Linked DNA regions of Homo sapiens: region 2 is linked to region 1. The links come from fine-mapping of genetic effects on plasma protein levels. A gene starts in region 1. The other region holds a variant in brackets. All regions are shown on one strand. Distances are between the middles of the regions.

Region 1 (4,356 bases):
CCCAAGCTTGCCTTGGCTCTAGGGATCCCCCCAACCCCCACATTTCTCTGGCCCAGAGACCCCCGATGAGCTGGATAGTCCCTACCTGTGTCCCCTTCGCCACGGAGGCGGCAGGCAGGCGCCGGACAGGCGCTGGCACACAGGTGGGCACCCTCTGCGGCCTGCAGCTATGTGGCCAGCAGACTTTGGCACCATCTCCACCTCCACTGAGCAATCATTAACCCTGCCAGAGACCACACCTCCCAGGAGGGGTCGACTCCTAATGAGGCAGAGTACAGCTGGGGGCGCCGGACAGGAGGAAGGGACCAAGGCGCCAGAGCTCCTGGCGCTCCTGGGGCTGGAGGCCCACACCACAGGAGAAGGGGCCTGGCCGACCCTGAGCCCAGAGGACCTGGGAACAAGGCCCAACACTGGGGCAGGCTGGAGGCGGGGACGGTGACAGTCAGAAGGTGATGCCAGAGCCCCCGTCCCCTCCCTGCTACGAGTCTTCAGTGACAGGGGATCTGTGGACAAGTGGGGGATTGAGTCAGGAGAGGGAAGTGGTAAAACAGTGTAACAATCAAACACTGTGTGGCCAGACCAGCCCCTGTGAGGTTCTCGTGGAGGACTGGGGGCTAGCTGAGCCTGGACAACCCACTTTCGAGCCTGTTGACACTGATCTCACCCCGCATTGAGACCCTCAAAAGGCATCTGCCCGTCCCCAGGGGCTTCATCCACTCCCAAGTTGCCTTTTTTTTTTAATTATTTATTTATTTTTGAGTCAGAGTCTTGCTCTGTCACCCAGGCTGGAGTGAAGTGGCACAATCTTGGCTCACTGCAATCTCTGCTTCCTGGGTTCAAGCAATTCTCCTACCTCAGCCTCTCGAGTAACTGGGATTACAGGCGTGGGCCTCCACACCCGGCTAATTTTTTTTGTATTTTTAGTAGAAACAGGGTTTCACCATGTTGGCCAGGCTGGTCTCGAACTCCTAACCTCAGGCGATCCGCCTGCCTCGGCCTTCCAAAATGCTGGGATTACAGGGATGAGCCACGGAGCTCGGCCCCCAGGCTGGCTTTAAGCGCTGCCCGATGTGGTGGCCTCCCGAAGGGGCTCAGCCACAAGTCCTTCTTATCCTCACTTTGGCCCAGCCATCACAGTTGACACAGAAAGGGGACCCTGGGCACAACTTTCTTAAGGCACACCACTGAGTCGTCACCATTGGGTGGCCCTCTTCTTGTGGGCAGAGGACATGTCTAATTCACAATAGATATATAGTCATGCACCATATATCTGTGTTTTGGTCAACAACGAACCACACATATAATAGCGGTCCCATAAGAGTATAATATCATCTTTCATGGCACCCTTTCTGTGTTTACATGCACAAATACTTACCCCTGTGTTACAGTTGCCTGCAGCGTGCGGTACAGTCCCAGGCTGCATAGGTTAGCAGCCCAGGAGCACAGGCGGTGGTATAGAGACTGGGTGTGTAGTAGGTGGTACCGCCTAGGTTTGTGTAAGTCACTGTGTGATGTTCACACAATGACGAAATTGCCTGATGACACATTTCCCAGAAGGTGTCCCCGTTGTTAAGGGTTGTGTTGACTGTATATCAGGCAGTTGCTATAGTCAGGCATTTTAATAGTTTGCTTCCCAACTCTCCAAATGTAAAACATAGTAACAAAATTTATACGCCACCAGCATAAAAAGAAGAAACCCAGATGAAGGGAAGTCAAGTGAGAAAAATAAGGGTAATCTACGCCTGAATTGAGGCCATAAAATACTTGTCTTGAGCTGGGGGCACTGCTGTGCACCTGTAGTCCCAGCTACTTGGGAGGCTGCAGCAGTAGGATGGCTTGAGGCCAGGATTTCTGTGCTGTAGGGCACTATGCTGATGGGGTGTCCACACTAAATTCAGCACTAATATGGTGAACCCCAAGGAGCAGAGGACCACTAGGTTGCCTCAGAAAGGCTGAACCAGCCCAGGTCAGAAACAGAGCAGGTCAAACTTCAGGTGCTGATCAGTAGTGAGACTGTGCCTATGAATAGCTACTGCACTCCAGCCTAGACAACAAGAGCTTCTCTCTCAAAAAATAAACAAATTATATATATATATATATTTGCCTTCAAGTTCTGGGTAATTGTAGAGATGGGTCATGAATCAGGTTCTGAGCTTCCCCCCAGGCAAAGAAAAAAGGGAATTGAGATCCATTGAGTCCAGCATCCATCCATTTTAAAACATTTGCATAGGCTGGTGGCTCGCGCCTGTAATCCCAGCACTTTGGGAGGCTGAGGCGGGTGGATCACCAGGTCAAGAATTCGAGACCAGCCTGGCCAAAATGGTAAAACCCTGTCTCTGCTAAAAATACAAAAAATAGCTGTGCACGGTGGCAGGTGCCTGTAATCTCAGCTACTCAGGAGGCTGAGGCAGGAGATTCACTTGAACCCGGGAGGCAGAGGTTGCAGTGAGCCAAGATTGTCCCACTGCACTCTAGCCTGGGTGACAGAGCAAGACTCCATCTCAAAAAAAAAAAAAAAGACCAAAAAGACCACTTTGCGTATAGCCAGGCTCTGGGAGCTATGATGCAGTTCTGAGTTTTGATACCCAAGAGGCTTTTCCTCTTTTTGAGAAGTGTTTCTGAGGAAAGGATGCTGCAGACACTGGGTAGCGCTCGATGCGACTATTACAATGCAGGGGTTAAGAGACCAGAGACCAGGCTCCTCTGGGGTCAGACTGCTGGGTTCAATTTTTTTTTTTTTTTTTTTTTTTTTTTGAGCACCATGTTGGCCAGGCTGGTTTCAAACTCCTGACCTCAGGTGACCCACCCGTGTCGGCCTCCCAAAGTACTAGGATTACAGGTGTGAGCCGCCCTGCCCAGCCACAATTTTTAATTTCATTTTATTTTTATTATTTTTTTTATCTACTGTATATTCACAATGGGTTCAATTTTGGCAGGGCAAGTTGCATAACCTCTCTAAGACGGTTTCCTTATCTGTAAGTTGCAGGTAATACATGATGCCTACCTGGGCAGGTGATGGTGAGGATGTAATGAAGTCACCCATTTGAAGTCCTGAGCACAATGCCCAACACAATAAGGTCTCAATGAATGTTAGTTTTCGTGGGGGCATGGTGGTGACTATTGCATTACTAATATCACCTCATTTAATCCTGCCAATAACTCCAGGGATGATTTTTTTCCCCATTACAGATGGGAAAATAGACCTTAGACAGATTAGATCACCACCCGAGATTACAGAAAGTGGCAGAACTGAGATATTAGCATATCTGTGCAACAATTCTTGCCCCTGACTTTCCTGCCACAGCCGTCAGATTCCTCTCTGAAGGAAGTAGGCACTAGTCATCGCTGGTGGCTTAACCAGTAAGAAGAGAGGCAGGTGACCCCACCCAAGGCTCCAGGCTCCCCGCTCTGCCTCAGACCATGGGAGTCAGCCTGGTCGCTCTGCTGTGCCCCAAATAGGGCAGACCCCAACCCAAGCCCCTGCCCCCTCTCCCTGCCCTTACGGCTGAGGCCGACAGCTCTGAGTCACTGCTCTGGTTGACAGAGGTGTGTCCTGGCCTGCCCAGACCTTTGGACCCATCACGATGAGGCACGTGTGGCCAGATGGTGCCCTGCCCATCTCGAGGGGCACCATCCACCTGCCACAAGGCAGCCTGGGAAGCACACAGGGATCTGGGCTATGACGATCCAGGTCCAGGTCTAGGTCCAGGGTTGGCTTCACGGAGCAGCAGGCAGCCAGGCAGAGTGGGACTAAGAGCCCAGGATATGGACTCAAGTGACCTGGGTCCTAATCCCCACCACCACTTACCTGCTGGGGGCTTGGGCAAGGTACACCACCTCCCACACTATTGGTGTCCTTGTCCAAAATGGGCCTAATGCAGACTCCACCTCATAGGCCTGTTCTAAGGAGTAATGATGTAATGCATGACAGCACTTAGCACAGAGTAAGTAATGGGGTGATGTGCACGAGGCGACAGTTTAGATACACATCAGGGTTCCTTCACAGCCACTGTCTGAAGTGTGTGCCTTAAAATTTTTTTTAATCAGAAAAACTTCTCGGCCGAGTGCGGTGGCTCACGCCTGTAATCCCAACACTTTTGGGACACTGAGGCAGGCAGATCACTTCAGGCCAGGAGTCCAAGACCAGCCTGGCCAACATGGTGAAACGTAGAACATGGTGAAACCCCATCTCTACTAAAAATACAAAACTTAGCCCAGCGTGGTGGCGTGCACCTGTAGTGCCAGCTGCTCAGGAGGCTGAGGCACAAGAATCGCTTGAACCTGGAGGTGGGGTGGGGGGAGATTGCAGTGAGCCGAGATTGCACCACTACACTCCTGCCTGGGTGACAGAGTGAG
Region 2 (4,382 bases), 30 kb before region 1:
CACTAGTGGGTTTTTATCTCATGAACTCTGTGAACCTGGCCACTGATCTCATTTCCTTTTTTGCTTTGGCCACCATGAAGCTCAGATCAGAATTTGCAGCTCACTCCAAGCAATTCTGTAGCACTGGGTTCTAATTTTACCTTGTGCCCTTTAACAAATGCCACCTTTATTTTCTCTTTTTTCTTATTTCTTTCATATTTTTATCTTACTATTTATCTAAGCCACCTCAAGTCCTTTTTGGAGTGGGGCAGGTGGGTAAATAAAAAAGAAGTGTATGTTTTTGAGGGATTTCTCTGGCAGGCCCAGTGCTGAGCTCCTCACACAAGTCATTAAATTATTCCCCAATGACCCTGAGAGTAAGGCTATAATTTTCTTCATTTCCTGGGAGGAAACAGAGACTCTGAGTGACTGTCTCAGAGCCACACAGCGGAGCCCCGACTTTACCCAGGGCCAGCATGCCCACAGAGCAGGCTTGGTCCCCTCCCCCAGCCTTACCCACCAGGTCCAGGCAGGCTCACACCTGGATGGTCACGGAGACATTGCCCTCCTCCTCCTGGACGAAGATGTTGTAGGAGCCGCTAACCACGGGTGCATTGTCGTTGATGTCCAGCAGGTGGATCTGCAGTGTGGTGGAGGAGGACAGGTTCCCGCCGTCTGTGGCCTGCAGCGTCAGGTAGTACACGGCCTGGCTCTCCCGGTCCAGCAGCTCACCGTTCCTCACCGTCACCGTCCCTGAGACGGGATCCACTTGGAAGAGGTCTGCCCTGCTCAGAGGGGCCAGGTTCAGCAAATAGAGACACAGGATGCCCATTTCAGTGTGAATTTCAGATATACAACAACAAATATTTCAGCATATCCCATGCAGTATATGCAACATATTCATTATTTCAAAAAGTCATTCCTTGTTTATCTGAAATTGAAATGTAACTGAGTGCCTTCGGTCTTCCCCAGCTATTCTATCTCTGCAGAGAGGCAGAGAGGTGGGCCTGGGCCCTGCTCACCCACCTGCCTACGGCCCACCCTGAGCCCTTACCCATTTCCTGGGAGCAGGCTGTAGGTAATTTGGCCCCACGCGCCCGTGTCTGGGTCCGTGGCCTGTGAGGCAGAGACATGGCAGGGTGCTGTGTGGAGGCGATGCACGCACCGCCACCCATGCAGCTCGTGGGGACAGAGCTGTCGTGCTTCCTCACACAAAGGGAGAATCCCCAGCACACTCAGATTCACTCATGGCCACCCCCATCTCACACATACACACACACACACTCTCACACTCACACATGCACGCCCGCTTGCTGGGACCCCACAGCCCCACTGTGTCCACATCACTCACGTGGATGCTGTCGGTGACCACAGAGCCGGTGGCGCTGTGCTCTGGCACCGTGAGGACGTACAAGCTCTGGGGAAACGTGGGCCTGTGGTCATTAATGTCTCTAAGGTGGATGGTCACCATGGCGACGGAGAAGTTCTGGCTGACGGAGTCTGTGGCCACAACCTGGGGGCAGGGGAGGAGGCAGCAGCTGTGGGGCCCAAGTGCCCCTCGGCTTCTGCCCCTGGCACCCCGGAGCAGCCCTCACCTGCACCGCCATCGCCGTCTGCCTCTCGTAGTCCACCAGCGCGGATACTCTCACCAGCACCTGAACGGAGGCTGAGCCCACTGCCCGCTCCGGGGAGACGCTGAAGGCTTCTGCATCGGGGCCCCCCAGCGACAACAGGAAGGTGCCATTGCTGCCCTGTAAAGGTGGGCTGTCTAGCAGGGACCTGTCCCCCTGCTCTGCCCACCTGCATCTTCCCCCAGTCCCCAGGCTTCTATCTCTGGATGCCCCGCCCGATGAGGTCCCATGGAAGGGGGCTCTCAAAAGACTGCGAGAGAGGGTGCAGGAGGCTGGGCTGGTCACCAGTCCCTGCAAATGCAGGCTCTGTAGAAGACAGCTCCCTAGGCACTGTGGGTCCCAGACCTGGGCTGGAGCCTGGACACACACCCCTCACTCCTGTCAGCTGTCCCTCCCACCCACCCTTCACATCCCCCACCCCCAGCCCCCACAGCAACACCAAACACCACTCACACCCTACGTCACCCCACTGGCCAGTGCCACCCTTCTGGCCAACCTAACCCCACCCGACACTGTCCTCCACGCAACATTTCCAACCCCTCAGTATCACCTAACACCATACACCCTCCAGAGTTACTCATCCTCCAGCGCCACCGTGTTACCCACCTCTCACTGCAGCCTCCACTTAAGAGTGCCTCCCATGGCTGGGCGCGGTGGCTCACGCCTGCAATCCCAGCACTTTGGGAGGCCAAGGTAGGTGGATCACTTGAGGTCAGGAGTTCAAGACCAACCTGGCCAACATGGTGAAACTCCATCTCTACTAAAAACACAAAAATTAGCTGGGCGAGGTGGTGCACACCTGTAATCACAGCTACTTGGGAGGCTGAGGCAGGAGAATCCCTTCCACCTGGGAGGCAGAGGTTGCAGTGGGCCAAGATTGGGCCATTGCACTCCAGCCTGGGTGACAGAGCGAAATTCCATCTCAAAAAAAAAAAAAAAGAGCACCCTCCCACCTCACACCCTCAGACCACTTGTCCCAACACTGCTCAGCCTCCCCCAGTTCCCAGGACTACCCAAATCATGGCCGCCCAATGCCAGGAGACCTCGCCAGCCACCCATCACCAC[G/A]GACAATGATGTTCTACTCAGCATCATCTGACGTTCTACGTCAGCCTCCACTCAGCATGGCCTTCTATTCAGCCCCACACGGATCGCCCAGAGGATGATACTGCTTACCAACACAGGCTTCCAGAGAGCACCCAGCACCCCCATTCTCCGCCATCACACCCTGCACCACCAGCACCGCCACCCAGCACCACATGACACCGTCACTCGATCCAGGCTCCCACTGGCCTCCCCCAGCCACCCCCGCCCACACCCACGCCACCACGCCTGCCTTGTCCGGGTCGTAGACCACCATGGTGAGGTCATCGATGGGGATGCGGGGGGAGGCATGCTCGTCCACGTAGCCAGTGAAGTTCACTTGGGCCTCTTCGGGGGTGAAGGTGCAGGCTGGGAGGCTGCAGTTGTAAAACTCAGGTTTGTGGTCATTGACGTCCATCACTCTCACTGTCACCCAGATGCTCACCTTGGCCTCCTGCCCGTAGATGTTGAGGTGTGTCTCGGTGGCCTGAGGCACAGAGCAGAGGGCAGAGGGCAGAGAGCCAGTGCTCAGAGAGAGAGATCAAAGGCCAGAGGTTAGAGAGCAGGGTTCTGACAGGGGTGGTGGGGCCTTTGCTCACCGTGACCTGCAGCTGCACCTCCTCATCCGCCTCCAGCAGCTGCTCACGGTCCAGGGAGCCGTTGACCCTGATCACCCCATCTGCCCCGATGTCAAACCAGCCGGGCCGCGTGGAGTCTGGCAAGGAGAAAGGCGGAACAGCTGGAACAGCTGCTCCAGTGGCTCTGACGGAGCCCCAGGCCCATTGCCTCCAGGGACTCTGACGGAGACCCCACCCTGGCCCCGGCCCAGCCCTGGCCTGGGGACACCCCGTTCTCACAGGAGATGCTGTAGATCACAGGGTCATTGATGCCTTTGTCGCCATCCACAGCCTCCACCGTCAGCACCGAGGTTCCCTGGAATGGGGCCTGGTCAGTGCTCCTCAAACTTCCCCGCCTCCCGCCTCCACCCACACCCCACAGGTCCCCCGTGCACCTTGGCTGCATCCTCAGCCACAGAGGCCGAGTAAAACTCCCTGACAAACTGGGGGTCAAGGTCAGGCTGGTCCACCACGGAGATGGACAGGAAGACAGGCAGGGAGCACTGGATGGTGAAGGTGTTGTGGTACATGCCGCCCAAGTCCTGCGGGGAGATGGCCACCCGTGAGCCAGCGCCGTGGGTCCTAGGCCCGCCTGCCGGCACCCCCACTCACACAGGCCTTCAGCTCCAGCTGGTAGAAAGCGCTCTTGTTGTTGTAGCTGAGGCTGCCATTGAGGACTATGGAGCCATTGGCCAGGATCCGGAAGAGATGCTCGCTGTCCCCAGTGCTAGGGATGACCTGGGGCAGAGCAGACTTGGGTCAGGCTCCCTAGGGACAGCCCTGCACCGAGGACCCCACTCTGAGCAACGCAGGGAAGGTCCCAGCTCTGCCACTGACCAGTCACGCCACTGGCACCAGGTCATATGACCTCTCTGAGCCTCAGTTTCCAGCTCCAGGAAATGGGGCTGGTGACAACCCTCAGTGGGTTGAAAGGAGGATCCAATAAGATGCAGTCGGCCCTCCATCTCTGTGGCTTCCACATCCACAGATTTGACCAGCACAGATCAAAACTGTAGCTAGGCTCACTCACAATGGTTGCGTCTGTACTGAAGGTGTACAAACTTTTTCCCTTGCC

Alleles and levels. Positions count from the first base shown, and alleles are read on the strand shown. Strength reflects both the effect of a copy and how common the allele is.
For the plasma level of the protein whose gene starts at base 158 in region 1, A is the low allele of the variant in region 2 and G is the other (weak association).

What was found. A credible set is the group of variants that fine-mapping cannot tell apart. PIP is the posterior inclusion probability: the model's chance that the variant is causal. The UK Biobank Pharma Proteomics Project read protein levels with antibody pairs (Olink). The fine-mapping took linkage between variants from a reference panel, not from the people measured, so its PIPs are less certain.
Region 2: its variant is the best candidate, but not a certain one, in a credible set for the plasma level of the CDHR2 protein (UK Biobank, PIP 0.72).

Annotation. Positions count from the first base shown.
Region 1 is chr5:176,545,144-176,549,499 of GRCh38, reverse strand. It overlaps CDHR2 (cadherin related family member 2), which reads right to left and starts at 158. Exons shown (of 32, transcript NM_017675.6): 1 at 86-158. It also overlaps the pseudogene RN7SL684P.
Region 2 is chr5:176,574,747-176,579,128 of GRCh38, reverse strand. CDHR2 (cadherin related family member 2) reads right to left here. Exons shown (of 32, transcript NM_017675.6): 8 at 3,920-4,045; 9 at 3,703-3,849; 10 at 3,548-3,623; 11 at 3,290-3,405; 12 at 2,944-3,177; 13 at 1,575-1,730; 14 at 1,331-1,492; 15 at 1,034-1,095; 16 at 521-764. Among named protein-coding and RNA genes, the nearest start is that of CDHR2, 28 kb to the right of the region's middle. RefSeq lists a silencer at 407-701. The variant G/A (reference allele first, on the strand shown) is at 2,676.